Regions from separate parts of the Homo sapiens genome. Here region 1 is linked to region 2. The links come from fine-mapping of genetic effects on gene expression. A gene starts in region 2. The other region holds a variant in brackets. All regions are shown on one strand. Distances are between the middles of the regions. Region 1 has its middle 65 kb from the start of SPOCK1. Region 2 holds the start of SPOCK1 (SPARC (osteonectin), cwcv and kazal like domains proteoglycan 1).

Region 1 (2,910 bases), 65 kb after region 2:
GGATTAGAGTTTTCAATGCTAAAGATTTGGGAAAATAAAAAATGATACCAAATGGCCCACAATTACCTTCAATGGCAACAATGTCTTTATTTCTCAGAAGTGAGTTTACCTTGACAACCACAGCAGCTTTCACTGGATTTTTCTTTTTTTTCTTTTTTTTTTTTTGAGATGGAGTCTTGTTCTATGGCCCAGGCTAGCATGCAATGGCACAGTCTAGACTCACTGCAACCTCTGCCTCCTGGGTTCAAGCGATTCTCCTGTGTCAGCCTCCCAAGTAGCTGGGACTACAGGTGCGTGCCACCACACCCGGCTAATTTATGTATTTTTAATAGAGACAGGGTTTCACCATGTTGGCCAGGCTGGTCTCAAATCCCTGACCTCATGATCCGCCCGCCTTGGCCTCCCAAAGTGCTGGGATTACAGGCGTGAACCACCACTCCCAGCCCACTGGATTCTTTAAGAACAGCAAACCACTCACCAGCACTATGCCTGGGCCCTCACGCCATCCCTCCAGACCCTATCTGTAAAACACACAAAAGCGGGTGAAAGAGTGTGAACCTGATTCCAGACTGCTTCTCCTGCTCTCACACTCATACAAGGTTTGGGTGTTAAGTTCATTTATTTACTTAGCAAGTGCCTTGTGAGCACCCCCACCCTTTGTATTTGGCTTATATTAGGAGCGAAGGCACAGGGCGAACAAAACAGCATGCCGCCATCCCTGTCCTTATGGAATTCAGGATCTGGTGGGGATAGGCGACTGAAACAAAGTGACTCTGGAGTCAAACTCTGAGTTCAAGTCCTGGCTCCTGCTTACTAGCTGGGTGGCCTGAGCATGTTAGTTACACTTTCTGGGCTTCTGTTTCCCTGTCTCACAAAGAAGCATAATAAACTCACAAGGCTGTAACAGAGATTCCCTGAGACAATGCATGTGAAATGCTTGGCACAGGGCCTGGCGCAAAGCAGCCCAGCTGAAGGCTAATTAATATTGTCATCAGCACTTACACTTGTAATTAGCTGTTATGAAAGAAGAGAGTCCAGAGGAGGGACTGGGTGCTCACAGCAGGGAAATCATTGAGCATCTCCCAGCACCACTGCCCACCTTTCCCAATAACAGTGGTCCAGTAGGAGGAAAGAACAACTTGATCAGACTTGGCACCGTTCCTCTCTCATTAAAATCATAGCCATCAGGAACCCACAAGACTGATGCAATTTCCTGACTACAGGGTTCGACTTGGGTAATACGGAAAGGCATGCAGAGGCAGAATGCTAACACCTCCCATTCTAGGGAAATATATTGCAGGGACCCCACCATGCTGACCTTTTCCACACAGAGTATTTTGATTAACTGGCCACTGATTCCTCCCCTGCAGGTCTGGAAGACTATAAACAGAAGAAGGGGTGAGTGGTTGACCAGTCAAATTTTTGGTTCACTGAAAAGGTTAAGAGAGTGCAATAAAGCACAGTGACTGGAGGAGAGAGGAACCTCATCCCAAGTCACGAGAGGAGGAAGCCAGAAGGCGAAGCTGC[C/T]CCACACATTTGGCGCTGAAAGAGGCTGACATCTTTGCTTCTGGTCCTGAGCCAGGCTCAGCCTTTCTGCAGGCCAATTAATTCTAGACACAATATCTGCCCTAAATTCTTCAATGTAATTAGCACCACATGTTATCAACAGGAAGCTGGTACCCGCGGGCACTTGAGATAATTGTTTCAACACTGGCATTTCTCTGCTTACCGTGAAAGGTCACTGCAGCCGATATATCTCTGCTATCCCCCATTCCTTTCGTTAAATGACAAAAAGCCGTCCCTTGTCGTTACAGTTACGTCAATTCATGGGTGCAGGGCTCAGGACATCCATACAAAGGCTTCTTAGCAGTAAGTATGCTCTAAGAGTTTGCAATAATTACTTCCTGTGACTTCTGACATCAGCAGTGTCACACCCCCCTCATATAGGCCGTATTGCCTGACATTGTTATATTGCCTGACATCTTTGGGCTGCTGGGGCGGCTGGGGAACGTCTGCACAAGGGAGCCGCCTCTTTGCTGCCCCAGTTGCAGGAGGCCTTTACAGATGGAGCACATAGAATGACAAACAATGGCTGTTTAGAGCAGTACTGAATGTTTTGCTCTGTCTTGTTACTTGACCTGTGAGTGCAGTGGGCTGAGAAGTACATCTTAGTTTGCTGTGAATAGGACTTAGTGTGCTCAGGATGACTGCACTGGACAATTGCCACCAAGACTACTCAGGACGCCCCCACACATTCTCCAGGAGAGCAAGGAAAGTGGAAATCTTACAAAGTTTCCTCACCTCACCCTGCACCCATGCTGCAGCCACACTGAATCCCTCTTTACATTTTTTTTTTTTGAGACAGTCTTGCTCTGCCACCCAGGTTGGAATGCAGTGGCATAATCTTGGCTCACTGCAACCTCTGCCTCCCAGGTTCAAGCAATTCTTCTGCCTCAGCCTCCCGAGTAGCTGGGATTACAGGCTCCCGCCACCATGCCCGGCTAATTTTTTTGTATTTTTAATAGAGACAGGGTTTCACCATGTTGGTCAGGCTGGTCTCAAACTACTGACCTCAGATAACCCACCTGCCTTGGCCTCCCAAAGTGCTGGGATTACAGGCGTGAGCCTCCGCACCCAGCCTACCCTCACTCTTGCACAAGCCCCATTCTCTCACCTCTAGAACTGTCTGTTCTTCCTTTTTCTCCGGGCACTCTTCTCTCACCCCTCATTTCACCTGGCTAGTGCATACTCATTATTCACCCTAGATAGCATTTCCTCTGGAAGCCTTCCCTGAAGCCCCCTGAACTAGGTAGGGGCCCAAACCCTTCAACTTTGACAATCTTGTTTCATGGTCTCTCTCCCACTAGCAGAAGAGCTGGGTAAGAGCAGGGATCTTGCCCATCTTGTTCA
Region 2 (2,910 bases):
TACCATCACGGTTAGGAGAAGTCGGAAGCTCAGAGAACCTCTTTCTCCACAGCTACTGGTGATCTGTGCTGTATTTTAGTGCAGTCACCTCCCGCAGCCCTACGAATACACACACCTGGGCCACAGGTAACAGGCAAGCGCATGGAGCCTTCGAAGTTCTCTTTAAAGTTCCTTTCAGGCAAGACCGCACCCAGGAAGCTGGGACCGACCAGCCCCCGCGGGAGATGCCCACCTGTCCCCCTCCCAACCACACACACACACACACACACACACACACACACACCCCAACCCCGCTTCAGGGGTCCCCTCCGAGAGGCTCCGCGCCCCCCAGGGCCGGGTGGCGCCGGTACTCACGTCTCGAAAGCGGTTCCAGTACTTGTCCCGGTCGTACTGGGAGACGGTGCTCAGCCACTGGTCATTGTCTAGGAAATTGCCGTGGTTGGGGCCCGCGCCTCCGGCGAGCGCGTCCAGGTGCCGGCTCTCGACTTGGAGGAAGCACCACGCCGCGGCGGCCGCCGCCAACACCGCGATCGCCGGCATCTGCGGGGCAGGGCGCGCAGGGCGATGAGCGAAGAGGGCGGGCGGCCGCGAGCCCCGGGCACCCAGGCGTCCCAGCGCCCCAGCCCGGAGGCGGGGACCCCGCGGCGGGCACGGGCAGCGCTCGCGCACCTGGGGCGCCTGTCGCGCCTCTAGACCCAGGGACCCCTCTCACGAATGGGGGACTCATCTACGAACGAGGAGGCTGCGTCACGAATCCGAGGCTGCCGTCCAACTACAGGGGACCCGTCTCGTCTATTCTCCGAGTGCCCCACAGATGCCGCCCTCCTATCAGGGGCTTGGTACCCCTCCCCAGAAGCGGGGAGCCCGGGTCCGCACGCCGCACTCCCACAGACGGTGCGGTGCACACGGCTTTGGGGCAGGAGAGGGGAGAACAGGGCTCCAGCAGCACCCGAGCTCCGGCAAGCGGGGTGGGGGCTGCCAGCAGCTGGGGGTCCCCGGCGACAGCTAAGGGAAAGGTCTCCCTTGAGCGCCCTGAGGTCTCGGGGGTAAGAAAGGCGCGCGGAGGTAACCCCAGGCCCTGACCCTGCCAGCCCCCTAGGCGGCCGCGGGGAGGTCCCAACTACTCCAAGTTGGGGCGCGGGGTTCCTCTGGGCACGTACCTTGGGGGCCGGCCCGGGTCCCCTAGTCCGAGTTGCTCGAGCTCCCGCGGCACGGTCGCCGGGAAGGCTGATCGCCGGCTCGCGCCCCTGCGCTCCTGCCACACGCCGCCGCCGAGCGTCTGGCCGCTTTGTGAGCCCGCAGCGATGTGCTCTGCTCGCTCGCTGGCTCGGGCGCGGCGTCCGCGGGCGGAGGAGGCCGAGCGCGCGAGCCAAGGCTCTGGCGCCCCCTGGTGGCCGCGCGCTGCCTGCCCGACAGCCCGGCCGCCCCAGCCCGGAACGTGGTCATTCACATCTTTTTTTTTTTTTTTTTTTTTTTTAATTTACTTCTATTTTTTTTTTTAATTATACTTTAAGTTTTAGGGTACATGTGCACATTGTGCAGGTTAGTTACATATGTATACATGTGCCATGCTGGTGCGCTGCACCCACTAACTCGTCATCTAGCATTAGGTATATCTCCCAATGCTATCCCTCCCCACTCCCCCCACCCCACCACAGTCCCCAGAGTGTGATATTCCCCTTCCTGTGTCCATGTGATCTCATTGTTCAATTCCCACCTATGAGTGAGAATATGCGGTGTTTGGTTTTTTGTTCTTGCGATAGTTTACTGAGAATGATGGTTTCCAATTTCATCCACGTCCCTACAAAGGACATGAACTCATCCTTTTTTATGGCTGCATAGTATTCCATGGTGTATATGTGCCACATTTTCTTAATCCAGTCTATCATTGATGGACATTTGGGTTGGTTCCAAGTCTTTGCTATTGTGAATAATGCCGCAATACACATACGTGTGCATGTGGCTTTATAGCAGCATGATTTATAGTCCTTTGGGTATATACCCAGTAATGGGATGGCTGGGTCAAATGGTATTTCTAGTTCTAGATCCCTGAGGAATCGCCACACTGACTTCCACAATGGTTGAACTAGTTTACAGTCCCACCAACAGTGTAAAAGTGTTCCTATTTCTCCACATCCTCTCCAGCACCTGTTGTTTCCTGACTTTTTAATGATTGCCATTCTAACTGGTGTGAGATGATATCTCATAGTGGTTTTGATTTGCATTGCTCTGATGGCCAGTGATGATGAGCATTTTTTCATGTATTTTTTGGCTGCATAAATGTCTTCTTTTGAGAAGTGTCTGTTCATGTCCTTCGCCCACTTTTTGATGGGGTTGTTTGTTTTTTTCTTGTAAATTTGTTTGAGTTCATTGTAGATTCTGGATATTAGCCCTTTGTCAGATGAGTAGGTTGCGAAAATTTTCTCCCATGTTGTAGGTTGCCTGTTCACTCTGATGGTAGTTTCTTTTGCTGTGCAGAAGCTCTTTAGTTTAATTAGATCCCATTTGTCAATTTTGGCTTTTGTTGCCATTGCTTTTGGTGTTTTGGACATGAAGTCCTTGCCCACGCCTATGTCCTGGGTCATTCACATCTTAATGCAGGGCTAAAATCAGCTTTCAGGCCCAGGCTGGTGCGAGACAGAAGAGGGGACTGAGGATATGAGGCCAAGACGCAGGCCAGCATGGAGGCATTCTCAAAAGGAAGGCCGTCGGGTTATCTAGATCAAAATCACCTGGGTGGAGAGAGAAGCGAACTTCCTAAAAATGATTCCTGCCCCACCGCCCCACTTGCTGAGTCAGCATTCCTTAGGAAAGCTTCCAAGTCTGCACTTTTAATGAGCTCCCGAGGCGTTTTTTATGCATGGCAAAGTTTGATAACCACCGTCCTGCCATTCCCTGGATAAGTGAATA

The links.
Region 1: its variant is fine-mapped to the expression of SPOCK1 in whole blood (TOPMed, PIP above 0.99). The same link has a PIP of 0.9 or more in blood mononuclear cells.

What each region holds. Positions count from the first base shown.
Region 1 is chr5:137,562,565-137,565,474 of GRCh38, forward strand. No RefSeq gene overlaps it. Among named protein-coding and RNA genes, the nearest start is that of SPOCK1, 65 kb to the left of the region's middle. The variant C/T (reference allele first, on the strand shown) is at 1,528.
Region 2 is chr5:137,498,019-137,500,928 of GRCh38, forward strand. SPOCK1 (SPARC (osteonectin), cwcv and kazal like domains proteoglycan 1) reads right to left here and starts at 1,308. Exons shown (of 11, transcript NM_004598.4): 1 at 1,161-1,308; 2 at 355-540. The coding sequence starts at 540. RefSeq lists a silencer at 1,259-1,478.